2 separate regions of the Homo sapiens genome follow, and region 2 is linked to region 1. The links come from fine-mapping of genetic effects on gene expression. A gene starts in region 1. The other region holds a variant in brackets. All regions are shown on one strand. Distances are from middle to middle.

Region 1 (14,898 bases):
TTACAACACAATAAAATATGAAAGTTTGTTATCCTTATACAAAGAACTCTTGCAAACCAATAAGAAAGTGGCAAAACAAAAACAAAAACAAAAAACCCCCACACACTTCGATAGAAAAATGGTAAGGAATAAGGAAAGGCAACTCCCAAAAAAAGAAATTGAATTAATCAATTAGATGAAATTCAACTTCACTGAATACAGTAGAGAATGCAAATTAAATACAATAAAATACACGGGGACATATTCAGGTTTTGTGAAGCCTGAAACTTAAAAAAATGTGGGAGCTGGGTCTCCAAAACTGTTATTTCAAAACTAAGTATGAATAAGAATTTTATTTGGCCCCGTCTGGGAGGTGAGGAGCGCCTCTGCCCGGCCGCCACCCACTCTGGGAAGTGAGGAGCGCCTCTGCCTGGCCGCTGTGCAATCTTCCAAGTGTGAAGTGATAGCCTTTCTGCAGGTGTACCCAACAGCTCCAAAGAGACAGCGACCATCGAGAACGGGCCATGATGACAATGGCAGTTTTGTTGAAAAGAAAAGGGGGAAATGTGGGGAAAAGAAAGAGAGATCAGATTGCTACTGTGTCTGTGTAGAAAGAAGTAGACATAGGAGACTCCATTTTGTTCTGTACTAAGAAAAATTCTTCTGCCTTGGGATGCTGTTAATCTATAACCTTACCCCCAACCCCGCGCTCTCTGAAACATGTGCTGTGTCAACTCAGGGTTAAATGGATTAAGGATGGTGCAAGATGTGCTTTGTTAAACAGATGCTTGAAGGCAGCATGCTCGTTAAGAGTCATCACCACTCCCTAATCTCAAGTACCCAGGGACACAAACACTGCGAAAGGCCTCAGGGACCTCTGCCTAGGAAAACCAGAGACCTTTGTTCACGTGTTTATCTGCTGACCTTCTCTCCACTATTATCCTATGCCCCTGCCATCCCCCTCTCCGAGAAACACCCAAGAATAATCAATAAATACTAAAAAAAAAAAAAAAATTATTTGGAATAAGAAAATAAATCACAGCAAACTATAATGTTTCAAATGCTAAAAAAACCCACAAGTGTCAAAAAACAGCAAAAATAACATATTATTTTTATTGACTAAGACTTGTTTATAATTTTTTTCCTATATTTTCTGGATGCCTACACTTTCATCATTTCTTCATTTGACAACAACTTTGTATTGCTATTTTCTGTAGAGAGGATACAAATATAATTTGTCCTAACAGTTTATTGAACTATATTTCTTCTTATTTAGAGTTGAGATTCATAAAACGTATGACTCCACACATAGATTTGCTTGCTGTTTGTAACACTGCTATAGGTTTGTGCTTTATAAAGTCAGGCATTCTAATATGTTCTCTTTCACATCATGCCCACCAAAAAAGTTAAAAAAATAGATGTAGTGCATTTGTAGTGGTCTATACTGCATTATGGAGTATGTTCCTGAAAGAGGAGAATCATTTTGACTGGGTACAGATGAGAACTGAACCCTCCATTCACAGTTTTCCACATCTGATGACTGGAAGAATAGATACAGACTAGATGCTGGCTCTGTACATTTCAAACTGTGTTTCTCTTCTACTCTTCAAGCAGTTCCAGGACCAAGGCTGCAGGCCACGATCATAGTAGGATACAATCTTTATCTCTGCCTATGGTGTTGTGGAGCTGAGTGAGTTGACACAGTGGGCAGTAGGAGTGTTTTGGGAAGCCATTCCTTTATTGGGGAGCAACCATAGCTAAAACGGACATGGAAGTCACTGTAGCTCCATACATATGTCCCACCAAACTTTAAATGTATTTTCAATTTCATCGTAGCCAACTTCCAAAAATGCCTCCAGCCACTTGGATAACACTCAGCACAAGGAGAAGTGTGATTGAGAACTAGAAAAAACAGCTGTCTTAACAGATTTTAATAAAAATCTTTAATTTTGCACATTTTATTAAAGACATCTAATCATGTTAATATACTGCTAGAGTCATTCCCAGGCTCCTAATTAGATGTCCTAAAACGTATGCTTTATCTTCATGGTAGATCAACTCTGGGTGTAGGTACACTTGATGTTGAGTTTCCATATCAATGTCAATGTTTAAGGCAAAAATTTGATACAGTAAAAAATTATTTATATGGCTCATAGTGGTCTAACACAATGAGCTTTTCCTCAGGCTGTGGATCAGATCACTTTCCAGTTTTGTTCATTTCCAACTGAAGCTGTGGAGGTGCTTAGGATCATGTTGTACAAACAATATGGATGTGTGAACACTAGAATCACACACACAGAGTGTGGGGTTGTCATAGGAACCGAGGTCTATGGAGGAAACAGCAGAGCCACCTCTCTAGTATCATCAGCACAGGGCGCCTTCTCATGAAGTCATGAAGTGAAAGGACAGGCAGAACCCCTGTAATACAGGCCATTTTCCTCTTTCTCTTTCTTTCCTGACCCTTAAAGTTTAATTCAAGTAAGTTATTGATTGTATGATGAGACCTTACTATACCACATGTAACACTTATAATTTACAAAAATTAGAACAAACATTTCTGAAACATTTTGGGAATGTAATTTAGCATTATGCATCAAAAGCCGCCCAAAAAGTTCATACCCCTAAAGACTCAATTTCCAGGAATTTATCCTAACTAAATCATTATGAACATATTAAAATATATAGCTACAAGTGTGTTCATTGCTAAATTATTTTTTAATTATTTTTTAATTTTTAGAGAAGGAGTCTTGCTTTGTTGCATAGGCTGTACTGAAACTCCTGGGCTCAAGCAGTCCTCCTGCCTCAGTCTCCCAAGTAGTTGGGATTACAGGTGCAAGCTACCATGCCTGGCCCTAGGTTTTTAATCAGTAAAAATTGGAAATGATCTATTACTATATGGCCAATGATATGGAATTGTTTAAATTAATTATGGTATATTTACACAATGGAATACAACACATTGGTTCAAATGGCAATGTAAAGAAATGTGAAAGATCTACTTGAAGAAAAAATTAAATGCTATTAAGAACACAGAAGATAATTTGTATAAATGAAAACAAATACCTTGCTCTTGGATAGGAAGACAAATACTGTCATGATTAATTATTAATCTAAAAATTTAACCTCATCTCAATTAAAAATAACAATCAGAATTATCAAAAAATGAGATAATATGACTGTAAAGTCTAATGAAAGTATAAATGGCAAGAATAACCAGAAAATTTGTAAAAGGAAGTGAAGGGACTATCCCTACTATTAGTAAAATATGTTATAAAACACTGCAGTAATTAAAACTACAACCATTCATGAGTGGATGTGCAGAACTGAACAGAGTCTAGAAAAACTAGACTCTGATATAATAAGGAACAGAGTATATGATGGAGATGGCCTTTCAACTTGAAGGAGAAAATGGTGGCTTGTTCAATAAATTGTATTAAGACAAGTAACTAACTCATACACTAAAATTAATTCCAGGTGGACTGTAAAATAAAAAGTATAAAATTAAAATTTAAAATTTAAAGGCAGATGCACAGAAATATTTTTAATTTTAAATTTTTAAAAATTAAGAAAAATTTTAAAAATAAGTAATTTTAGTATAGGAGAGGCAAATGGTATATATAAACCAATACAAAGCTCACAAGCCATAAAATATACATAAAAATGATTACATAAAATTCTGAACATTTTGAAAAGAAAAAATGTCATAAATAATGTCTGAAGGGAAAATGATAACTTGGGAAAAAGATTTTAATGTGGATGACAGTCAAAAAGCTTATTTCTCAATATATAAACATTTTTAAATAATAAATAAGAAAAAGGCCAATAAAAACATGGTTATCCACAACTACAGAGCTTCTCATAAGACATCATGGAAAAATATGTTTTCTATTTTTTATTACTTAGCTTTACTGATGTATAATTTACATAAAACAAAACCTGCCAATTCTAAATGTAAAGTTTGATGAATCTGTTTATGGTTAGTAATTACCATCACAATTAGGATATAGAATTTTTCCATCACCCAAAACAGTTTCCTCTTGCCCTTTTACAATCCCCACCCCTGACATCTGGGAACCACTATGCCCTTTTGGTTACTATGGTTTTGTCTTTTCTAGAATTTCATAAAAATGAAATTATATAGTATGAGTCTTTTGTATCTGGCTTCTTATACTTAGCATAATGCTTTTGAGATTCATCCATGTTGTTGCAAGCATATGTAGTTAATTTCTTTTTTATTGCTGAGTAGTAAATATTCCATTGTATGGATATACCACAATTTGTACCAGTTGATGAAAATCTGGGTTATTTCCAGTTTGGGGCCATTATGAATAAAGCTGCTATGGACAAGTCTGTGTGGACATGTTTTCATTTTTCTTGGGTGAATATCTAAAGAATCGAATTTCTAAGTCATATGTAAGTGTATATGTAATTATAAAAGAAACTGGGCCGGGCATGGTGGCTCACGCCTGTAATCTCAGCACTTTGGGAGGCTGAGGTGGGTGGATCACCTGACATCAGGATTTCGAGACCAGCCTGGCCAACATGGTGAAACCCTGTCTCTACTAAAATATATTAATTAGCTGGGTGTGGTGGTACATGCCTATAATCCCAGCTACTCAGGAAGCTGAGGCAGGAGGGTTGCTTGAACCTGGGAGGCAGAGGTTGTGGTAAGCCAAGATCGTGCCACTGCATTCCAGCCTGGGGAACACAGCCAGACTCCATCTCAAAAAAAAAAAAAAGAAACTGTCTGACCAGTTTCTAAGGTTGGAACATGGGGAGAATCATTCACCAAAAAAAGTAGAGAGTTCTTCCCAGAAGAAAGGGGAAGGGTGTGAGGCAAAAGTAATTTCCACTTTTTTTGAAATATAGAAAACCATTTTTCAAAGTAGTATCATTTTACTTTCCCACCAGCAGCATATGAGAGTTCCAGTTGCTCCATATCCTTGCCAGAACATGAAATGATCAGTCTTTTTCATTGTAGCCATTCTTAAATGTGTGCAGTAATATCTTCTTGTGATTTCAATTTGTATTTCCCTAATTAATGATTAATGATGTTGAATATTTTTTTCATGTACTTTTTGTTTTTCCATTTGTATTTTTTCTTTGGTGAAATGTCTGTTCAAATATTATAAAATTGAAGGTATTTATTTGCTTATTGCATTATTTCTGTCACTTCATGGTCTGTTTCTATTGGTTGATTTTTCAACCTGCTTACAAGTCATTTTCTTTGCATGCCTGATAATTTTTGTTTGCATGTTGGACATTGTGAATTTTATCTTATTGGGTGTTGGGTTTTGTTGTTGTTTGTTTTGTAACTAATCTTGGACTTTTTTTTTTCTCTGAGCACAGTTAAGTTACTTGAGATCAATTTGATCCTTTTGAAGATTGCTTTTAAGTTTTGTTAAGGCAGGACCAGATAAGTGTTTATTTTAGGGCTAATTTAGCCTCCCCCTGCATTAAGATGATACCCTTCTGTGGACTCTGGCCAATGCTTTGTGTATAAAAGGTCTCTGTTTTGGCTGGTATGAAGACAAATTACTTCCAGCCCTGTGTGAGCTCCAGGAATTGTTTGGCATACTGCTTTCTGGTAGTTCTTCCCATGGCCTCATAGAATTTCACCCATGCATGCCTAGGACAGTATTCAGCTAATGACTTGAAGTGACTGCTCTGCAGATCTCTGCAACTCTCTCTCTAATCATCTCCCATCACTCTTATATTCTGCTTCACAAATTCTAGCCACTTTGGCTTCCCTGGACTCTGATCTGTCTCCTGTGTTCTGTGAAATTTCTGGGCTCTGTTTGGGTTCTCCATCCCTACAGTGATGCCTGGAAACTGCTTTGAGACAGTAAGCTCGGACGTAAGACTCACTTCATTTGTTTCTCTTCTCTTAGTTATCACAGTCCTGTGCTCTGTTGTTCAATGCTTAAAAACAGTTGCTTCTTGCCGGGCACGGTGGCTCACACCTGTAATCCCAGCACTTTGGGAGTCCGAGGAGGGTGGATCACGAGGTCAGGAGATCGAGACCACCCTGACTAACACGGTGAAACCCCGTCTCATCTCTACTAAAAATACAAAAAACTAGCTGGACATACTGGTGGCTACCTGTAGTCCCAGGTACTCGGGAGACTGAGGCAGGAGAATGGTGTGAACCTAGGAGGCGGAGCTTGCAGTGAGCCGAGATCACAGCACTGCACTCCAGCCTGGGCGACAGAGTGAGACTCCGTCTCAAACAAACAAGTAAAGAAAAACAGTTGTTTCTTTTTTTTGATCCTGTTTTTCTAGTTGTTTGCAATGGGAGGACAATTCCCACAGCAGCCAATGCTTCATAGAAGAAAGTGGAATTCTCTTTTTTCTATTTTCAACTTTAAAAATCCCAAGGGAGATCGTTGGCCCAGTTTCTGTTTGGTGATCACCCATAAGCCAATCAAGGTAGTGAGGATATATAAGAAAATCACAGTTTCTAAGGTTGGAGTATGGGGAGACTCATTCCCCAGTGAAAAACAGAGAGCTCTTCCCAGAAGAAAGGGGAAGGGTACAGGGTAAAAACAGATGAGAGACATCTATTATCAAAGCAGTTCTTATGAAAAAGAACTTGAAGTCAAGAAACTGATAGAGCTGTAAGAGTTCCATTGTCTAGAAGGTGGAGTCCGTTCCCTGGCCACATGTTTTCCAGGGCCAAGGACAAACAAGAGCAGGTCCAGGATAGAGAGATACAATAAGTGTAACAGTTACACTGAAAGAGACAGAATGCAGTACAAAAGCAACTTTCTTTCTTTCTTTCTTCTTTTCCCTCCTCTACCCATCCAAGTCCGCTCTATGGACAAGTTCTTTCTCATCCCTTGTGAGAAATATGTGTTGGTCTCACTAGTTTTCTGGTCCTCTTCAGCTAATGAAAAGACCTCAAGATATTTTAACCCCATGAATAGTTTCATTTTGGTAATTAAAATGCTCAGTCCTGTGCAATAGTCAAATCTGAGAATTCCACTTATAGGGAGTAGGGAACAAGCATGTGGTCACCTCTTCTTTATTTTCCCACCAACAGGGTCTCTTTGAACCACAGTAGTCCATCCCTCCGCTGCTCCCCCTGCAAGATGGGTAACAGCCTTTCTGACGCAGGGAGCATAGGTGAGGGGTATGGATGGAGGGGAAGGGAGGTCTCAGGAAGGTCCTCTGTGCTGGGTGCTGTCCTGATCTAGCTTTGGTGTTCTCTTTGCCTAGTAAGTATGGAAAGCTTTTCCCCGTGGAGCATTGTTTTACCCGTATAACCTTACCTTGAGTGAGATATGGTGGGGCCAGACACAGATCAAGAGAGAGAAGCTAGAAAGAGTTTTAGAGCTTTTTATATCCACAGTTTCCTGGAGAGATCACAGCACACCATGCAGGTCCACTCAGGGCCAGGGTCTGTCACAGAGAGAGGGAGAGAGGGGAATTGTGGACAAACATCTTTATCATGGTTTCTGAGGGAAGGAAAGAGTGAAATAAGGCAAGCAGATATAGGATAGGCTAATTTGGATAATTTCAGCGGGTTCTGAAGTACAGGGGCTGTAACTAGTTGTTTGGTGCCTAGCCCTGGACAGGTGTATAGTGTCCCGCGTGTGAGAGCCTGCTAACGGAAGTGGTTGGGGGTATGCAGTTAATAGACTGCTGGAGAAGGGGAACTGACCAGCCTCCAGCCTGAGCCTCAAAACTGGGTCAAGGCAGCATGAAAAAACTGCTACATTACAGCTATTTTATGGGTTCTTTGGAGACCTGAGATATGAGAGCATGTCTCATCTGCAGTCCCTTTGTTGTCCGTGAAGTCTTTCTTCTGACTATATCAGGCACACGCACGCACAGATTCTGCTACATCTGAGAGTACTAAGCTGTCTCCTGCGCTTCTCACATCTGACACTGAATTATACATGACACCATCATCAGCAAAGGACAGGGCGCTGGGAGCACCACGCAGAACCTAAGCTATTGGAGGGTGGGAAAAGCAGCAGCAGAGCCTAGGAGTAGAGGACAAAGCGTTTCCAGTGTAACAGAATAATGTACTATCTGCGGCCGGGACTAGGGTGAGCAGAGTGAGGCGCTCAGTGAGGGTGCAACATTTAAGAGGTGCCATAAAATTCAGCAACTAAAATACATAATAGGTGGCTCACTCCTGTAATCCCAGCACTTTGGGAGGCCAAGGCGGGCGGATCACGAGGTCAGGAGTTTGAGACCAGCCTGGACAACATGGTGAAACCCCGTCTCTACTAAAAATACAAAAATTAGCTGGGCGTGGTGGCGCACTCCTGTAATCTCAGCTACTCATGAGGCTGAGGCAGAAGAATCGCTTGAACCCGGGAGGCGGAGCTTGCAGTGAGCCGAGATCGCGCCACTGCACCCCAGAGCGAGACTCTGTCTCATAAAAAAACAACAACAACAAAAAAAACCACCATAATATTTAATACGGTATTTTAAAAAATACATAAAAACGTTTATATAGGGTGCACAAGTTCCCTTTTGCCTAAGAGTTCAACGTGGCTCAGCGGGGCACTGGTGCTAAGCAGTCGCAGCTTCTAGTCTCCTCCTAGGGCCCGGAGCAGCCCCCAAGGAAAGGCCTTCCCTAGGAAGAAGTAGCCCTTCAGCCCAGCCTAGAAGAAGGAGCTGAATCAAACCAAGGCAGGACGATGAGGCGTGGCGTGTACTGACAGGGAAGAAGAAACAGCAAATATTTGAGTCCAAGATGCCTGGAGGGAAAAGAGCTAGAGGACTATTTGGGGGAATGGTCTTGGCAACACGGTTCTAGGCAGGTACCACGATCATATAGGGACTCTGTAGAATTTTAAGTAGGGAGGCAAGCGCCCAGGTTTGTTTCTTATGCAGAAAGTGCTGAGCAACGGACAGACTGAAGAGGTTAGGTCTGGATCCAGGTAAACCCTTTATGAGGCTAACGCACTAGCTGAATGAGGGATGACAGCATCCCACCTAGACAGGTGCAGACAGATTCCCGAGGTTCAGGTTCGGACTTCAGTTTCTCCGCTGGAACGCTGAGGGTGGGGCAGCACCCGGGTCCCTGCCCTGCAAACGGGGCCGCTGCAGGGTTCCTTTGGCGGGGCCGGTGCCCCGGGGAGCGCGCAGGACGCGCCCGCCTTCAGCCGGGGGCCAGGGCGAGCGGGACGGGGCGGGCCCGCGGGTGCCCTGACCAGCTCACCGCCCAATCGCTGCGGGCCCGCCGAGCCCCGGGGGGCTGGGGCCGCCGCCGCCGCCGCCAGAACGTGCCGCGGCTGCGCCAACGCGCGAACGCCGGGCAGGGCGGCGGGCGCGCTCAGTCTGGCGGCGGCTGCCGTGAGCTGACTGACGTTCCGGGAACGCCGCAGCAGCCCGCGCCGCCCGCAGCCTAGCCGAGCCGCGCCGCCCGGGCCTCGCCCGCCCGCCTGCCCGCCATGGTGTCATGGATCATCTCCAGGCTGGTGGTGTAAGTGGCCTTCTCCCCCGCGCCCCTCCGTCCCCTCCCTCCCCGCCCCCGGCCCCGGGCTGCGCGCGCCCCTACAGCGCCCGGTCCCAGTGGCTCGGGCTATTAATACCCGGCGCAGCTAAATTTAGCAGGTACAGTAGCCGCCGAGGACGCCTGCGGGCGGACGGGCGGCGCAGGACGCGGCTGCTGCCCAGGAGGCAGCCGGCGCCGGCGGCCGCTTGCGGGGGGCTGGGCCGGGACGGCGAGGGCTGGGGCGCTCGGGGGTTCCGTGGGGGCTGCGTCTCGCCGCGCGCTGGCCGCTTTGTTCCTCAGCTCGGTCGATTTGCAGAGGCCCCGAATGGGCGCACCGCGGACACGCGTCTCTCTCCTTTGGCAGAAATGTGAGGTCGCCCGGCGCCGCGCCCCGCCGCCCCAGCTTTTGTCAGGTGGAAAGGACAGCGCAGACGAACCAGGGGCGCTGCCTGGAGGGTCAGCGCGGAACGGGTGGAGAGGCAGAGGCGGGGCTCCCAGTGGGGTTGGAAAAATCCTCCTTTTTAGGTGTCTGCATCGACAGCGGCAAAGGCAGCTGGGACATGGGAAGACGCATGTGAATCTTGGAGTAAACGCCTGGAGCCCCCGGCTCCGACTCCTTTTGCAGGGGATTGAGAGACAGGGGCAGGTACCTCCAGGAATGCACGGGAAATTTTCAAGTGACAGCCACCCGCATGGTGGCGATGACACCTCCCAGGCCTTGCAGGAGAGCGCAGAGTCATCTAGGGTGAGGTCTGTGTGAAGTCATTGGGGGTGGGCGTGGGGGCCGATTTTCTCCTTCAAGCCCCAGGACCTGTAGGCGTTTGAAGAGCTTCCCCGGTGGATTTATTCTCCTTTGGAGATAGACGTGGCTGTTCCAAGTCCCTGTTCTTCCCTAACCATCCTGGCCTGAGTCAGAACAGATTTGCCACCTGCTGTAGCTAGCAGGGGCTGAAATGGGTGTGGGGAGTCTAAGGCGGGGAGGAGGGTGGCAGGCACCTCGGGCTTTTTCTTTGTCTGAGAACACGGGGCTCTGGACCCCAGTGATTGTGCACCATCACTCCCCACGTTTTGAAACACCACCCATCTCCCTTCCCTTCTTTACTGATTTTCCCTTCCGAAGTGGATCTCAGCATTGTCTCCCGCCACCATTCAGGGCTTTCCTCCCAAAGCCAGTGTCTGTGCCTCTCAGCCCCCAAGTCATTCCGTGAAGGCCTCTCCACAGCTGTTCCTGACTGCGGGGTGTTTGCGCTGCACCTTGAGGTGGCATGTTAAATATTTAGAAGATTTCTGCTGGCAGAGCCGACATGAATAATACAGGAAAGTGGCTGACACGCCTTGCCCAGCCTCATGCCTGACCAACACTGTCTTGCCTTCAGGGTGGTGTTTCCTCTCTGGGATCGATATTGCCAGTGGCTTCTGGGAAGCCCTCAGGGTGGGGCTGGAGAGTTGAGCTGGCCTGGCTGGTGGGCTCTCTGTAGGTCCTGCTGGGCTGGGAGTGAGGGCATCTGATCCTGGGTCATGTGACTATCATTAGTTTTATTAGCACTGGGTCATGTGACTATCATTAGTTTTATTAGCACCTCCCTCACCCCTGCCCTTTTTTTTTTTTTTTTTTTGAGACCGAGTCTCGCTCTGTCGCCCAGGCTGGAGAGTGCAGTGGCACAGTCTCGGCTCACTGAAGCCTCCGCCTCCTGGGTTCAAGCGATTCTCCTGCCTCAGCCTCCCGAGTAGCTGGGATTACAAGCGCCTGCCACCACGCCCAGCTAATTTTTGTATTTTTAGTAGAGACGGGGTTTCACCATGTTGGCCAGCCTGGTCTTGAACTCCTGACCTAGTGATCCGCCCGCTTCGGCCTCCCAAAGTTCTGGGATTACAGGCGTGAGCTACCACGCCCGGCTCCTCCCCCTTTTTTACAATGAGCAACTGATGGGGGTGGAGAGGAGAGGCATATATTTGGGAGGTGTCTCAGGGATGTGCTGTTGCTTTCTAAAACAACCACACTCCCTAGAACCGAGACTTCAGAGAATTTAAATGAACAGCATTATGTGGCCCAAGGAGAGTTGATGGGATTTGGGATTGTTACTTCCACTATCAAGTCCAAAAGGTCAGGGATACCACTTATCCCCCAGTCCCTAATTCCCTGTAGAAACCTAGCATAAGCATATTGATTATGAGTTATGAACATCATTTTTAATAAGCAATACCTGTTTCATGAAGACAATATTTGTTAATTACAGGAAAATTAGAAAAGATAAACTGAAAATCATCCACATTTCCACCACACAGAGATAACTAATAATAATGATGGAGGGCATATTCTTCAAGAAATTTTCCTGTATTGCATATATGTACATATATTTGTAATTCAAGGATATTATTGATTCAGCCCAATATTCTACACTCCACATACCTTGAGGAACTTCTTATCAAGGGGAGGAATACTGTGTTTGGAGTCAGAACGCCCATGGTTCAAATCCCAGTTTTGCCTCTTGCCAGAAGATCCCAGTTCACAACTCAGATCAGAGCAGATGCTAGTCCACAGCTAGTTAACCTCATGTTGCTGTTGCAAAGATTTCCATGACACTTGATATATAAATTGCCAAGCACCACGGAGAGCACTAAATCAATGATGAGTCCCTCCTTCTGTCCTCCCCGGGAACCCTATGAGAGGGGCTCTCAGACTTAATTTACTCCTGTGGTTTTCAAACTGGGTTCCCTGAGGGCCACCCAGCCTGAGCAGATGGGCTCTGGGCTCCTCATCCCTGATTCAACCCAAGCAGTTCCCTTTTTGTTTGTCTTATATATTGGGGTTCTAGATAAAATACAATTCAGAAAAATATATGTGTTTTACTGCTAATAAAAACAACTGATCTAGTCCTCCCCCTCATCTGTAAAACTGCAGAGGAAATATGCCTTGCTCAGGGACACAAGATGAGCTGGTGAAGAAAACAGGCTCTGGATTTTTAGTCCAGTCCAGTGCTTTTTCCACCTTCACTCCCCACTGAGAAAAACATCTCTTTCAAGCTCCCTAGACCTCTGGTATGGGAGCATCCTATGGTTTTATCCGCGAGTCACGTTTTGTATAAGTAATCTTTTCATGGTTTTGTAAGCCTCTGTCACATCAAAGAACATGTAAGGAAGACCTATCACTGTGTTGTGAGGATAGAGAGGGAGTGTCTTCCTGTCTTTGTGTGGTCCCAACCATCCGACCAGAGGTATCACAACAAGCTGATGGCCTCCAGGGACAGCCAGCCAGTGCTCGTGGTTGTCTCTGCTGCTACTGGCCGTGAGCATTTTGAAGAAAGCAATTGTGGCTTGTTTCCCTTTACAACCGCTTTATCCCTGCCATGGGTCTTTCACAAAGTATCTGGCACCTGAATGCACTGAGTGAAGGTTGGTTGTGTTGAAGGAAATCCTAGGCCCTGGGGACAAGCAGAGTGGCTGGCTACTGCTGTCCCCTGGGGACGGAGGTCAGCAGGCATCAAGACAGGCTTGTGCCCACGGGCAAGGCTCTTAGAGTGAGGACCAGTTTGAGATGCTTATTTCTTGCCAGCTCTCTTTCTCCTAACTTCCTTGGCTCAGCCTGTAAAGAATTAAGGAAGAGATACTCAGTGCAATAGCACTCAGAACCAGGTTGATACCTTCATGGGACACAGGGGCTTATTTAGGACTTGCCTGCTTGCCTCCTTTCATTTTCTTTACATACAACTCAAGGCCTAGGCATGAATGAATTTCAAACTGGGGAGAGCATGTTTTTGTGCACCCTTTTGGAGGGGGGATACCAACGTTGCTCTGTGACTTCTTGGAAGAATATGCCATTTTGAAGCATTATTCTAAGGAGCAGGTATTGCCTCATTGTCTTGGCCAAGGCCCAGAATGTTGGCTGAACGGATCAAGAGCTTCTCACCCCTTATGGGATTAGTAGACTAAAACCCCAGCTCACTACATGGGGGAAAGAGAGTTCTAAGTCCACAGAATTTTCTGAATAACTAATGGCTGTGCAGAAAACATTTTATTTCCACATTGCACATTTTAAAAAATACTAGTTTTTAGAAAATACAGTGTGATGATCAAGACAGAGTCTTAGTTTGATGGCTGAAGATCTGGCTAAGTTCCAGGACTGGGATTTGGAGCATGAAGTCTGTCCTGGGTCAGGGATGTGCAAATGGATGGAGCTGGGAGGAATGTGGATTGTCCTCAAGATGTTCCCCAACTGTTGCAAAACAAATGGAAAAAAAAGAAAATATCGTAAATCCTTAAATATAAGCTAGCTTTTCTTTGGGGCCTGCTTTTAAAATGTGGCATGCAGGAAACTGATTCAGTTAATGGAGGGTTCCAGTTGGTTGAGGATTGATTTCCTGGCACTGTGCTGTAGTACACTGTGGGAGCTGGGTAAATGTTTCGGTTGAATTGTGAAAGGAAAGATGTTAGGCTAGTAGGCAGCAGACATGGGTTCTAGTCCCAGTGCTGGTCTGACTCACTATCACAGTCCTAAGGGCAACTCCCACCCACCTGGGCCAGCTCCCTGTCTAAGAGACAGGTTTTTGGCCACAGTCACCTTGCAGGTCCTAAGAGCTCCAAGAGTCAGTGTTCCTCTAGGTCCCTTCCTTCCCCAGCTGGCCTGTATGCATCACATTTATTTATAAACAGGAGGAGTATCCTCAAGGAAGTGAAAAATACTAGCTTAGATTTCTCCGCTGTTGAGCTGCCCTGTTTCTTTGTTTGCTAATCCTGCCTGTCTGCTGAGAAGTAGCTTTCATGCACTTCTTCCCACTGTGTCTTATTTGAGGTTAGCTGACAAGTGAGGGTCTCACCTAGTTATTACTGGGTCAGTCTCCCCACTTCCTTCTGAAGCCCGCTATCTTTTTTGGAGGGTGTATTATGTCGGGGGAGGAGGAGCCCTGGGGAGAATGAGGGAAGGGGGACTCAGGTCCTCTTTGGCCATTTAGTGAGGCTGCTGTTTTGTGTACGTATGAGTGTATGTGAGTGAACGTGTGTGTGTGTGTGTGTGTGTGTGTGTGTGTGTGTGTTTCCAGGAAAGTTAGGGAGGCTAGGGAAAGGAGAGATATGGCAGTGCAGCAGCCATAGCACGTGGCACCTTTAGAATTTCACTGCCAGGGATGAGCCACACACATGCCCAGCTGGTTACCAGAATTCTTAGTCTGGGGGAGTTTTTCCAACCCCCGAAAAGAAGTAAGGAGAGGGGGGTGCACTTGGGCACTAAGGATGTTCTCCTCTCGATTCTGGGCCTTGGGAAGGGAATTGGGATTCTTGAGGAACTGGAAGTTGGATCATTATATTCAGAGTATTTATTCTGAATTTTCAGATCTCATCTGTCTTTATACAGAAGCACATTATTTTCACTTTGGGATTTTTAAGTCACACTGGGGCTTCCCTGGGAATACAGGGAAAAAGGAAATATAGATCAAGGACCAACTATTGGGCACACAGTAGGGATTTCAGAA
Region 2 (14,898 bases), 120 kb after region 1:
AGTTAGGTCTACTTGTGGAAATATATCTAAAGTAGCAAATCAAAGTAAGAAAATTGAAGCATGGGGAGAAGGGAGTGGGCAAGTAAGATGGAATCAGTGGGGAGAAGGACATTTTAAATGCATACCATCAAGGTGTAGACTGTTGAGACACCTGGCTTCCTTGAAACCACTGCAAAGAGGGAAATACAATTATTAAGAGATTCAGTCCACTGTGCAACAGCCAGCTAGAGGCGTGGAAGCTTGTCTTATTTAGAATGTTTATTCTCACTGGTTCTGAGAGTAAGGCAAATATTATAGACAACACTCTTGGCAGAAATGCTCAGCGGACACAGTGACTAGGAGATGTCTTATCTTCTTAGGAGGTTCTCTCTGTAGCTTCTTCCTGAGGCTATTCTGGCTCCCTCACTGCCCACACTGGCCTCTTTTGCTCCCAGCCTCTGCTGAGCTGAGCACTTGTTTCTATTCCTGCTTGGATATCTGGGTTGTCCTTGAACCATCACTCCTACTGGGCTGGAGGGTCATTTCTTTTCTACCCTGCAATCCTTGCAGTGGAGAACATGCACAAAGCCATTTTGGTTTCAGTCCTGAGATTATAGTGATGATGGTGATTTTGGTAAGTGTGAGTTCATTGCTCAGCCTCAGTGAATCCAGACTGGATAACTAGCCTGGGTTGTTAGATGCCTGAGGATCTCACGGTGACTTTGGGCCACCTTCTGACACCCACAACCATCAGTACAGGGAAAGCCCTGGACCTGGATGTGGAGGGTACAGCATATGCAGAGGCACAGTCTCGAACCGGTACCCACCCCACTTCCATGTCATGGAGTTGGCTGCTGGGGTGGAGCTGGCCAGGCTGCTTCTGCAGTTTTTGCCTTGGTCTGAGGGCTTTTGGTCTTTTTTCCCTCCTGCCAGGCAGGAGGTATCTGTGTCCAGAAGGAATTTCCTGGTTTGGTTAATGGGGGTGTCAAGCTCTGACTTGGGACTAGAGCTGAGCTCTCTGAGATGACTTCAGGATTCTATTTAGTTTAGTTGATGAGTGGCCACTGTGTGCCCAGCCCTGGGTCAGGTGCTCAGAGAGACTGAGGGAGGATCAGCCATGGCCCCCCAGTCTCAGGATGCCTTCTGTTGGCTGAGGCAATGAGACTGACATGAGGACCAGGGCACCCAACACAAGCTGTGTGGCACAGCCTCCAAGCACTGTCGGGTCTCAGAGTGGGGAGGCCAGGGAGGGTCAGAGTATTCAGCGAGGGCTCCCTGGAGTCACTGGTCTTTGTGCTCAACAGGATGCAGCTGATTAGGACAGAGGAAGGGAGCAGAGGACAAACTAAGCCCAGAGTAAATAAGCTGAGGGAAGTGCAGAGTAGAAATAAAATAATAATAGTAATTTAAAAATCAAAGGAACATCAGTGATCTCAGGACTTTACTTACTAAGGCCCAGTCTGAACCAATCACACCCCAGCCTAAAATTCAGCTTTGCATGTTGTGCTGCTTCCTGCTGGCTGTTGGGGAGCACAGCAGTGGTAACTGGTAAAGCTGCCCAAGATTAGGGTTCAGTTGTCTGTTTTTTTACTCCACGCCTGGTGGTGGTATAGTCTAGCAAGTCCACTGTTGATGGAGAGAGAGCACATTCGGTGGCTGAATATGTTCTTAGGAGCAGGGTGTCTCAAGAAGAGCTGTGGTTTCTATCTGGAGGCCTCACGGTGATTGGACCAGATGACTTGAGAACCCCTTAGTCTTGCATTCTGTGATTCTAGGTAAAAACAATAGATGCAGCATAGAAAAATGTGTGTGTGTGATACCAGATAAGCTGGGTAGGGGCAGAAGATATTTTACATCTCAACTAAGAACCGCCTAGCAGATGACATGGAATATGTATTAGCATTTAACATTTAAAAAATACTGTGCGTTCAATGAGATGAATTAATTCTGAAGCTTTTCCCGCAGATGTATTCAAGGCAGACTGAAACAGGAATCTTGCTATCATTTTTTTTGGCAGAGGCATCTGTCAGATTCTCCTTCCTTAGGTTTCTCTGCTTCTCTAGGACTGGGCCTTCGCAAAAAAAAAAACAAACAAAAAAACTATATAGCTTTGTTTAAGGTTATCACTTAAGGCCTCCTGGCATTTTATATCCTGTCTCTTACAGGATGCTTGGAATTGAATATGCAAGTATAATATACAATGTCAACATGGCTTGTATGTACAACATAGAAACTGCTCTCCCACCCCACCCCACATCACTGCTGCCATCCTCTCTAGAGGAGATTCTTTCCCTGAGCATTCACCTGGTGTGGGATCACAGGACTGAGCTGCAGGGATTGATGTGTCTCAGTTAAAGCCGCTTCTTTCTTCACCCAGGGAAGTGATGCCCCCTTAGTAAATCTACTGAATTACTCAGAATTCAGTAGATTCTGAGTCTGTGGTTGTTTCTGTGCACAGTGCCTGGAGATTCACACAACTGCACTTTCACAATCCCAGATCCCCTGTAAGGAGGCCCCCAAAACATCAGTGCTTCCTCAGACCGAGGGGCCTCAGCTGTCCTCACAGGCCTGGTTTGCTGTGCTGTGTGCCTAACCTTGCCCTTCCCTGCTCCCTGCACTGATGCTTCCTTGCTATACCTTGTCTCATCTGTGTAGATTGTAAATGGACATTAAGTGGTTGAGGGAGATGTGAATGAGGGTGGTATGAAGGCATGGGAGCCCCACCAGGTCCAAAACCCATTGGCGTTTTCTGACGACGAGGAGGAAGACCTGCTGGATTTCATGTACAAGTATAAAGCACCTCGAAGGATGGAATTGCCCCTGGAGGTACACAGTGTCTGGGGCTGTGGGTTGGAGTGTGTTTGTCCAAAGGCTATGCCCTGGAGATTGGGGGTCCTGGGAGCAGCATCTCTTGGGGCACCAACATCTCCTCAATACCTGGGGTGGAAAGATCTCCTTCCATCAAACAAGCAGAACCAGTCACTGGATAGCATCCAGCTACTTGCCAAGGAGAGGAAATCCTATTAATTTCATTTAGAAATAGGAGCGTGAGCCGGGTGCAGTGGCTTATGCCTGTAATCCCAGCACTTTGGGAGGCCGAGGCAGGTGGATCACCTGAGGTCAGGAGTTCGAGACCAGCCTGGCCAACATGGCAAAACCCCTTATCTACTGAAAATACAAAAATTAGCCGGGTGTAGTGGCGCGCACCTGTAGTCCCAGCTGCTTGGGAAACTGAGGCAGGAGACTCGCTTGAACCCAGGAGGAGGAGGTTGCAGTGAGACTGCACTGCTGCACTCCAGCCGGGATGACACAGCGAGACTCCTTCTCAAAAAAAAAAAAAAAAAGAAAAGAAAAACAAATAGGAGAGTGGTAAAGTATCTAGGTCTTTATTGTTTTGTTTTGGTTTTTCCAGGTATTAACAACTACCACTCTAAGTTGACGTACAAGTGAAAAACAACCCAAATTGACTGTTTTGGGGGAAGAAAACTCAGAATGTGTTATTTGAAAAGTTTTTATAAATAAGAACAAGGCTTGTTCATCGCTGTATCTCCAAGACACAGCATATAGTGCCTGGTATAAAGTAGCTATTCATGAAATGTTAGTGAAGGGGTATAGCCCTTTAGGGTTACCAAAACCAATACCCTTGACATATATGCTATTTTCAGTTGTAGGATGTGGATGGAGTTCTGGCAGCAGGAGGGCTGAGCCTGGAGCCTCCTGGGCCTTGCTCTGTGATGTGGGTAGGGAGTCACCAGTCATGAGCACAGGTGCAGGGACCCCAGTCTTTCTCTCTGCTTCCTAAGGTCTCCTCTCCTATTCCCCATCTGCTGAGTATCACGGCCTGAGAGGCCATCTGAAGCAAATAGGAAGTCTCCGTACAGACCCTTGTGAGACTTATATGGGGAGATGCCTTGAAATGTTCCCTTCTGCAGACACTGAGCAGCCTAGCATTCTTATTTGTTAGGACTGTAATTATGACCACCTCCATGTGCAGTTCATCAGGTTCCTTTGCAAGGTGAGGCACACATGCATCCCTTTTAAAGTTAGAGGGTTTGGGAAAGGATGTTCTGGGCTTGGACACTGCTGGAGGAGTCTGGCCTGGGCAATCTGGCCTGGGCAGCCTCCTGATGGGGAGAGGAGCCCAGCCTAAAGAATTCTAAGGCCCAAGGGTTTGTGCTGTTTTGCTTTTGTTTATTAAAGCTGCACAAACTGCTTTACTGTTTACAGTTCACCAGCCTGCCAAGAGGCAGATTACTATAAAGGTGGGTTCCGTTGTTTCCGTTTTCAGTGTCTGTCCAGAGGTGGCTGGTAAGCATTTCCTAGTGGTAAGGCTGTAGCATGAGGACTCTATGAGAGGGCCTGAGTCTTGTTTTCTGGCTCATTCACTTCCTGCCTTGTATGTGCCTGCCCAGCACTGAGCCACTTACCAGGAAATGGTGGTGAATGCGACATGGGCCTGCCCTCAGGAAGTCCCCAGTCTGGTGGGGAGAGAGTGAGCAGGGCCCCCACACACTCCCTTCCCACTGGGTGCAAAGTCCTCTGCTGGGGGACATGTACAAAACATGAGAGAACAAAGGAGGTGACGATGCCTGGTTGTGCATGGCTGGGCAGTGGCAGGAGGGGCTCCGGGAAACCTTTGCAGAAGTGACTTTTGAGCTGGGTCCTCAAGAGGCCTAGAAATATGCAAGACAGAGGAGGGAGGGAAGGGCTTCCAGTCAGAAGGAATAGAGGCATGAATGGGCACAGTGTAGAGAAAGAAGTTCTCTGTGTATACAGAGAAGTGGACAGACACGGGGGCCAAGGGTAGGTTGGGGCCAGTTGTGTGAACCCCCTCAAGTGCTGTGCCAGAAAATGTTCCCTTCACTTTCATTGAAATAGGAACTCCTCCTGTGATCTGTGTATCCCATGGAAGGAGGGGTCTCTTGAGAGTCATTTGTGGGAGAGATGAGGTGGAGCCCTTCATATAAGTTGAGCATCCCTAATCGAAAAATCTGAAATTCTTTGAGTGTGGACAAGACGCACAAAGGTCATGCTCATAGGAGCATTTTGAATCTCAGATTTTCAGATTGGGGTGCTCAATTGGAATGTATATGCAAACATCCCAAAATCTGAAAAAAAAAAAAAAAAAATCTGAAATCCCAAACACTTCTGACTCCAGGCATTTCCGGATAAGGGATATTCAACCTGTACTTCAAGGTGGTGTTTGCCTTTGTGGTGTGGTGTGCTGTACATTAAGAGGTTTCTCATCCAGAAAGGGGACTGGAAATTTGATGATGGAAATTTGAGGCATGTACCAAAACACATTAGGCTGGTTCCCAAAGGAAATAACAAAAGCAAAGGAAGCATGCGGAGG[T/C]GTCTCTTTCTGCTGAATCATTTAAGATAATTTTGCTCCTCAGGCAGAAACAAGAAAGATGTGTCATTCTGCACAACCGTTCCCTTGGGAGATTGAGGAGCATAATTTAAGAGGGAGGCATCAGCCTCTCAAAGGGCTCAGCTTCATGCGATATGTGGGATGGGACTCTGATGATTGCTTCCTGTTGCGGAGATTCAGGGAGACCCCAGCCCTAGCCAGCTGCATTTGGCCAAAGGAGCTGGAAGTCTCAACACAATGCCTTCCAGGTGCTGACCTCAAAAGATCCCACATTTACACCAAACTGAGGGACACCTTTCTGTTTTCTCTACCAGGCACCGCCTAGAATCCTTCGATCTCGCTTCAGGAAGAAAAGTACCTCATCCTCGGCCACCGAAACCACGTGAGTGAGATGAGCCAACAGCACCGGATCCACAGAATGTTTCTTCTCTGCCTTAAAGAGCTATTCACTAATAACATAGAAATCCGCAAGCTGGGTGTGCTTTGAGTGTGCAGCCTCACAAACATGGCCTTTTCTCTCTCCCCTTCCACTTTTAAGGATTTATTTTTTTCCCCCTTTTCTTTATTTTGCTGGGGAGAGGCTAAAGGGAAAGGTAGTAGGGGCGGGGGTGGTGACCTTTAAGTCTTCTGAGGTTGGTAATTTTCCACAATTGGATTGTCATTATAGACAGCAGTGTGTTTTTTAGAAAGATAAGAGAATCACCCCTATGCTGCTGAGATGTACATTTGTAATTTATCTGTTGCATACTTAGTTTTTAGTCCTGTAAATGCAAACACAGCATTTTTTACAACTTTCTTTGTTCTTGGTACTTATACTTTGAACTATGATGTACATATTTATGGCTTTTGGCTTTTAATATAATGGACTTGCAAGGGCTGCCAGAGGTTCTGATATGTAAGAAAACTGCAAAAACAAATATAGACAAATATTTTGATTCTAGAGAACGTCTCAGATGTGCTTATAAAGCTTCCAAATACAACTCCAGTAAGACATCCCTTTCCCTGCAGGAGTGTGGTCTATATTCTTTAGATAGTTGTTTAGTCAAAAGACCAGACAAGTTACAAACTAAGAGAAACAATATTTCACAACACAGTAAAGTGTGATGAGAGGTCAGGGGAACATCCCAGTAAAAGAGAAGAGTCACAGGAAGCTCATCTCCTCCCTGGATTCTGGATTAGGAGCTTCTGAATCTTTTCCAGGGATAGGCAGGTAGCTCACTCTTGGTGCAATTTCTTGAGGATGGGAACATGTAGAGCTGCTGGAAGGAGTAATTCTGTGCTTGACAAAGGACGATTTCTCCTTTATCGTGACCAGTGCTGCCGATTTCCTGACAGAGGAGCTTACACTCTGAGCACCTTGTTTTAGCGAACTCTAGCAAAACTTGTTTAGCTTAGCAAAAACAAACACACAAAAAACTGAGAACTCTGCTGTTTCAGATATGCCATAACATACATCTGAAACACATGTGTAACAATCAAAATGGTGGGCTCTAGAATGGTTTTGGAGCTCGAGATCTTCATGGGTTAGACTTGCTGGTCAGACCCAGGAGCACCTGTGGCTCACACCTTCTGTTCCCCTCCTGGCCTGTGCAGAATGTAAACAGCAGACTCATACTCAATGGGCACTACAGGCCTTATCAGACGTTTTATACAAGCCTGGATTGCTTAGTAGGGGAATAAGGCATTCTCTGAGGGGGCTTTCCACTTAGATTGAGAATTTTATTTGAAAAGAATCTGGTTTAAATGGCATTGTGGTCCGAGGTAGCTGCTCTCCCCACTGAGAGCTGAGCCGAAATATAAGAATAATATATTTGTGCTTCGAGTTGGTGTTTCTTTCAGTGTAATGCATGCAGTGGTCACAACCCAGTTACTCATAATATTTGGATTGTATTTGTTCGTAGATATGCCCAGAAGACTAGAGAATTAGTGTTATATACCATATAGAACTTACTGTCAGTCAACTATAAACAGGCCCAATTAAAAACTGTTCCATTACTACGCAAACACATATTAGAGGCCTTTGCTGATGACACATTAGCTGGATCTTAGCCACCCCAGAAAGGGTTTGATTTGAAGCTGATTGTTGCCAGATATGCATATTGGAATCCCATCTACCCATAGTTCCTCTGAAGGTGATTTTGTAATTTGCAAAAGGGTATAGGAAAATATACCTAAAAGCGAATTTGTGGCTGAGAGGATAAACAGAAGCTGTTTGCTCATGTTCTGTGCCCCACACCCACCAATACCTAAATCTGTTAAGGAAGACAGAAAATGTTTTCTTTGTGCTCATTGAGTAGTTCCAGACAGAAGAAGAATATACTCTTTAAAATGTATTTACCTGTTAGTTGGAAGTACCCAGAATTATCAGAAACGAATGCAAAAAAAAAAAAAAAAAAAAAAAGCTTACACAGCTTCTTAGCAATTTTTTTTTTTTTGCCGAAACAATAAATTGCCTTTAGCAGCAGTTTAAAATCCTATCGTGAACAACCTATATTTTCGCCATTTTACAATGGAGAGTTGTGACAAGTACAGGTTATCAAGTTTGCACTTAACTATGCCAAAAAAAGTTTGAAGCGCTCTATTCTCAGACATGCTGTATTATTACTTCTCATTCAAGATTGAAAAATATAAAGGTATCCAAACTCTGTCTTAATGTAAATGTAACTATTTTTCCTTCAAGTGTTGACTAGGGAGTCGGTTTCTCTCTTAAAGACACTCACTGTACAACTGAAAGCAGCTGTCATATTTCTGGCAAAATGTGTTTACGTATCTGACAAGTTGTACATTTGTGTATGAACTGACATAAAATGTGAAAGCCTGTAAGTGTACATGTAGTGGTGTGGTGTTCTGTCTAGAGGATACAACTGAATGTTTTTAATTTGCTGACTTACAGACACAGGCTGTTTACAAAATGCTAGCTGGAAAGTCTGTAATGTTCATGTCATAACTTTTAGTTAATTGCCATTGAGCACCTGTTCTGAGGAGGTGAGATGTGGACTTGTGCTTATAAACTGGAGAGTTTAGTCATAATCCCTCCTGGCTTTGTGTGAATAGCTTGCTCACTTTGCTGGCCTTTGAAATGTGTTCTCCGTGATAAGCTATCCATGTGTTTGTGATAAGAGTGCTTGTCAACCATGACCATCTTTGAGCCTTCCTAGTCCTCCACCTGGCACAGTATTTGAAATGGCAAAGGATGTGCTTCATCCTCTAACAGTGTACACTCCCAGAGCTGATATTCTGGATTTTGACTGTGCACATTTCCTCTAGTTCATGTCTGTAGTCCCTATAGAATGATCTGTAATAAAATAGTATACTGGACTGTGCATCAAAGGGATGTAAAATTACAGTATTCCAAAGGTTGAAGTTCTGCTGTTTTGTTATAATGCCTGATACACATCTTGAATAAAGTCTTAACATTTTTCTTTTAAAAAACATCTTTGTAATGTTGGGCTTAAAAGGAAACAGGAAATACTTTTTTTCAAATATGGGAGGTAGCAAGGATTAGAAGCTGAGTGTTCAGCCACCGACTGGCCTGGTGACTTGGCCCCGTGCCTGTTGCATAGGATGTTGAGAGGGAAAGAAAACCAGATGATATAAATGTTTTGAAAACCAGTTCATCACACAACTACAAACCTGAAAGTATCACTGTTTATTTCACATTTAAAAAAATCATCGGCAGAAACTAGGTAGCTGTGAAAATAGAATAGTCCACTGGTAGAGTTTCAATTGTGCAAACAGACGTTTGGTCCATCATTTTTCTTCTCTGAACATTTCTTCATCTGCAAATGGGGGAGTGCCTGTGCAGGTGACAACAGGGTGGTGAAGGGCCACCCTTAAACCTGCTGCAGCCCTTACCTTTCACATCTGAACAGGCAGACTCAAACTTCATTGGGTGGCCACAAAGACTTGGAAGCTCAAAATTTGAAACATCAAAATTAAACACAGACCCAATTTCTTTGCATTTTTAGTCCTGTATTCTATGTTTGACAAAATCACTGTAAAATAAAGCAGCAGTAAGAAAAGAAGCAGATTCAGAGGACTAAAAGCAGGAACAGATGGGAAAAAAAGGCTGGAAATCCATTCGTTTATTTACTGAGCCTGGTCCAATGTCAACAGAACTAGGATTAACTAGGTTAAGAGTTGGCAAAGGACAGGAAAGCAAAGTAATAAAATTTAAAAGCTGAATTGGTACAGTGTTATGAAGAAGTGTTTATTTAGTATTTATAGTACCAGATTACAGTCACTTGTTGATTTAGATATGAATTTTCATATGTTAGAAGACTCAGGGAAATACACAGGATCCCAAGGAGTGAGACTGAGATTCTGGGTCTTATTAGCTGTACTTTGGGTAATTTACTTAACCCTCTCTCAGCTTCAGTTTCCTCAAATCTAAATTAGGGCTTAACTAATCATTATGTCCTTTGTAAGACTGGAAATGTGGATTAGCAGTTAGACAGTATGTATGTACCCAGTTTTGTAGATATGCTGGGACATAGTAGGTGTTCAATAAATTATACATATACCTGAATAAACAAACTATACATAAATATTTTATAAATTATACATATAATCGAACATCATTTAGGTAAACTCTTTAATGAAAGACATTTATTGTCAGATTATAAAATCAGTGTTGATGATAAGCCCTCCTACCCACAAAACAAAAATCGTATGTATGAAATTCCCTTTCCCGTAAGTTATGTGCCTGTCAGCCATCCCACTTCAGTCCATCTTTGGATGCTGAGGCTCTGGTTGCCAGTCCTTATCTCTACACCTGTCCCTGGTCTAGAGGAGAAACGAAGGTGCTCTGAGGCCCCTGTAACAGAGACCCTTGTCATCCATATTTGCAATAAAGACATCATGGAGGCTGTGCAAAAGTATCCTTCTCCCCAACTTCTGCAGGCACCATTTCCATCTCACTACCCAGAGGTACATCAGAGAGCAGGAGCCAGGCAGGTGACAAAGATGTGGAAGGCTTCTAAGTGGTTGGCTTTGCCGTCTCAGAAGTGCGAAGAAATGAAAATCCATCAAAACAGAATGCCATTCCATGTTTCAGGCTTTTACCTCACCTCAAATCAAATGTCTGTTCTTTATTTATTGGTCCCATAAGTAGACACGCACTTGGACTTCTGGTTTTAGAACATTCTATTGTTATCCTTTCTCCTTTTAATAAACACACACTAGTTTCGAGGAATCTCCCTAATAATCCTGGCCTGACATGCTGCAGAACTTCAATTTCATAATTTTACTAACAACAGAGGAATTTCATCTTATTATTACCAACTACCACATTAAAGGATCTGAAACAGTAATTCATGCATAATTCTATTTAATAATGGTTTTCAAAGTACTTTGCTGTTTGAAAATGCTTCCCAGATGATTCTGATCGGAGAGTTGGGAACCACTGCCCTAGACTGTAACCACTCAATTGAACTTTACTCAGTGCTGCTTCCCTGCCCACTTCAAGTAAACAATGCTTAACTTTTTCGTTTCTAAAACAACTGAGATTACTTTCTCCCCCTTAGTTTCTACAATGATTGTTGAAAATTTGTGGGAAAAGTTTATCCTTACAAATGAAAACATGAAATCTGAAGTGGATAAACTAACTTTTAAGAAATACATATCCTTACTCAGTAAGCTGAGGCAGGAGGACCACTTGAGCCCAGGAGTGCGAGGCTTCAATGAGCTATGATTGCACCACTGCACTCCAGCCTGGGCAACAGAGCAAAACTCCTGTCTCTAGAAAAAATAAATACCTATCTTTCAAAACTTGCATAAAAAGCCCTTGTCTTCACTTGTACAGCCTCTTCTGTTTCATGAATGAGCATGCTGAAGGGCTATTTACTCTCCTATGAAAAAATGTTGTTACAGTAAATGACAAGTGTTATGAACACAATGAACCTGGTGTGTTAGATGTTAAGTGTGCTGCCACCCCATGTGAACCTCCAAGTGAAACTGCTCACATAACTGTTTTTTTGCTGCATGCAAACCTGCTAATACAAAGCGGGCTCCTGACTTAAGGACAGCCAATCCCTACTCTAGACAATGACCCAACCAGACCTAGTATAAAAAGGTAGTCTGGCCCAGTTAAATTCCCTTGGCAATTGGAGACTAGCAGCAGGAGCTGAAGGTCATCATGTAGAAAAGAACCTCAAAGGTGCAAGTTAAAGTTATTACAAAGGAACAGAAACTGTAAGTATGCAAAAGCTGTGTAGAGAAGTTGGTGAATAGAGAGAATGGAGTTAACAATGCAAAAAGAAGCAAGTCACATGCATGCAGAGCCCAAGCCTAAACATCCACCTTCCCCTGCTGAGGAGCACCACCCAATTTCTACTCTTCCTGAGGCTGGGAGGTGATTTCTGAGTGGGAGATGGGGTTGGTGAGGTGGTTCCTGAATTCCCTGGCACATATCCTTGAAATAATGTCACATTGCTTGAGCTAACTTGTAGCTTTTGAGTCTTTTTATGTTTGTCCCACTTGAGATTCCTTGCAACTAAAAGAGCATAACTGAAACAACTAGTTAAGCCAATACCATTTGTTAAAAATAATGCACCATTCTAAATTTCTGTTTCCCTAACCAAATCTGGCAAAGTCTGATCCATTAAGTTTTAAAACTTTTCTAAGTTTAATGTTGTCACTGTATGTTTACGTATTCATTGGTACAATTTACATCAAGTTTTGTACTTATCCATTTTTGCAAAGATATGTACACAAAGATACATATCCAATAACTGAGAAACAAGTGAAACTTCTGATCTATACTTTCAGGTTTGTTCGATCATGATACTTCTGATAAGGATCATCAACGTACCAGTTTCGCCTCTTCCAGAAGGACGTCGTCATTTTATCTAAGAGTTTACTCTGGGTTTTATTGCAGAATACAAATTCCCTCAATCGCTTCTTCCTTGCAGGTGTCTTTTTCCATAATTTTTTCTTATAGCCAGCCTGTCAGATATTACAAAGAAATGTAAAACATCATACTATGTATGAAACAACAGGTATCTTCACAACTCAAGGTTTATAGACCCAATAAGAACAAAAACCAGACTTCCATAGGGGCTGGACTATTTCTTGGAAAGATGTGATTCTCAATGGCCGGGGGAAGGGAGGGTGGCGGGGAGGGGGATGGAGAAAGCATGTGTAGTTTAAAAAAGAATTAGTAATAAATCATATTTTAGAAAAAAATTATTTAAATTAAACTCACAGAAAATAAAACTAAATGTGTGTGGCTGGGAAAGTACAAGATAATGACAGAATTATAATCACTAACTTAACAGGTATGATCTTACTATCTCTTCAGCAATCTTTAACAACATACTATTATTCTATTTTACATCTTTAAAAAAAGAAACCATTGATTAGAGAAGTAGCAGACAGAGGTCTGAGGGCTAATAAGAGTTCTTTTTTTGTTTCATTTTGAGACAGGGTCTCACTCTGTCACCCAGGCTGGAGTGCAGTGGCATGATCACGGTCACTGCAGCCTCTACCTCCTGGGCTCAAGTGATCCTCCTGCCTCAGCCTCTCGTATAGCTGGGACCACAAGTGTGCACCACCATACCCAGCTACTTTTTAAATTTTTGTAGAGATAAGGTCTCACCATCTTGCCCAGGCTAATAAGAGTTCTTAACCACTGTCTTTCCTAATGTAGAGGAGGATGGAGTGCAGGCGAGGTAACAACATTAATATTTATTAAGGAGGCTGAGTATTACAAGAGCTGAGAAGCACAGTTCTCAAATATATTGCTTCATTTATTATTTTCACACACAAGGGACCAATTTTTATAGGAAGTACTTTTCTAAGGAATTATGAATATGGTAAGACTATTATTAGGAGTGGTGAAGGAATGGTTAACCCACATATTTAACCCAGAACTTTCATATACACCCATACAGGTATTATTCATTTTGAAGAATTTATTTTTAAAGACAGGAAAGGAAAATTTGATTGATTATAAAAACTATAATCATAGCCTGTTTAAACTAGAAGGGATCTTAGGTGCCATCCAGCTTAATTAACATCTGGCTAAAACCACACGGTGAGCCCTTGGGTCCTTTCAAGCCAAGGGCTCTTTATGGCACAATACCAACTGAACAAAACCATGGCTCTTTGCCGAGAATGTGCCTTGCATTTCTGACATGTCTTAGTATCATCACTGTGACCATCAACTTCTATAAGGACAGTGATGAAATAAGGAAAGGTTATTTAAGAGTTCTGGTTTTAGAATGCTAGAGGTTAGATTTTTGCTACTCACTGCTTACAATTTTAAATGCAAACATTTAAAGCCAAATCTCCACATTTGTGTAATAATTTCATAGTTTGCAGGCCAAACTGGGTTACTATGGATCTCTGACGTACAAACACCTAATTTATTGCCCTGCTCATTACCACCAGTATCCTTTAAAGATTATTCACAGAATGGAACCACTATGAAAATGCTTGAAATTTTTTAGACAATCTCTAGATTCAAAAATGGAAGGAGGGAATGAACAATAAATACCAAGGACTGCTGGATGAAACCGTGTCATGGAAAATACTTTGTTTTACACATTAGTTTGAATTCATCTACCCAGATTTTTTTTTTCTCTGAAAATTAGATTTTGAAGAGGCAGGGCATTCTATACAGGGTATACTTTCGGGAGCCCTGAACTGAAGCTAGGTATTATGACTGGAGAGTATGATCGGGTCCTTTACAGTAACATGAGGGCCCCAGAGCCCAGTAAGAGGGACATGGAAAGGAAGGCAAGGAAACCCACCCATTTCATTTTACCTAGGGCTAGAAGAGGACCTGGAAATAACTGGTATAAAAACCAAAGGGTGGGGCTAGGCGTCACGGCCCATGCCTGTAATCCCAGCACTTTGGGAGGCCGAGACAGGTGGATCACTTAAGGTCAGGAGTTCAAGACCAGCCTGGCCAACATGGTGAAAACCCGTCTCTACTAAAAATACAAAAATTAGCCTGGCATGGTGGTGCATGCCTGTAATCCCAGCTACTCGGAAGGCTGAGGCAGGAGAATGGCCTGAACCCGTGAGGCAGAGGTCACAGTGAGCCAAGATTGTGCCACTGCACTCTAGCCTGGGCGATAGAGTGACACTTTGTCTCAAAAAAAGAAAAAAAAAAAAACACATACACACAAAAGGGAAGAAATGTTTCCAGTGGTCTCAAATTCACAAAACTCAGAACATTAGACCTTTAGTTTAGCTGCTTTATGGATTATATGAGCTTCTGCTGACTGGTGTAGGAAACTACCCACCACAGTGTTTCAATAGAGAAATGAGCTGAGAGTTCCAACCAACCCATTTATCTACTAATTTAGTACTGTTTATAAAACGGGAGAATCCTTTCAACCTTTCAAACATCAAGAAAGTTCTACCAACTATTTTATTTTTACAGGGAACCAAATTTTGATTTTTAAAGATTTAATTTCCAAGTAATGAAAGGGAATTAGGATTTGGGCAGTTACTAAATCTCAAAAATGGTTTTGCAAAACTGGTCTTAAGCTGCTTTCTTTTCATTTTTTGAGATGAAGTCTTGCTGTGTCACCTAGGCT

What was found.
Region 2: its variant is fine-mapped to the expression of REEP1 in whole blood (TOPMed, PIP above 0.99). The same link has a PIP of 0.9 or more in blood mononuclear cells.

What each region holds. Positions count from the first base shown.
Region 1 is chr2:86,332,002-86,346,899 of GRCh38, reverse strand. It overlaps REEP1 (receptor accessory protein 1), which reads left to right and starts at 9,274. Exons shown (of 9, transcript NM_001371279.1): 1 at 9,274-9,421. The coding sequence starts at 9,390.
Region 2 is chr2:86,207,877-86,222,774 of GRCh38, reverse strand. It overlaps MRPL35 (mitochondrial ribosomal protein L35), which reads right to left. Exons shown (of 4, transcript NM_016622.4): 4 at 8,985-12,295. The coding sequence ends at 12,107. REEP1 (receptor accessory protein 1) reads left to right here. Exons shown (of 9, transcript NM_001371279.1): 8 at 2,654-2,805; 9 at 5,665-8,782. The coding sequence ends at 5,736. Among named protein-coding and RNA genes, the nearest start is that of MRPL35, 16 kb to the right of the region's middle. RefSeq lists an enhancer at 4,315-4,609. The variant T/C (reference allele first, on the strand shown) is at 5,333.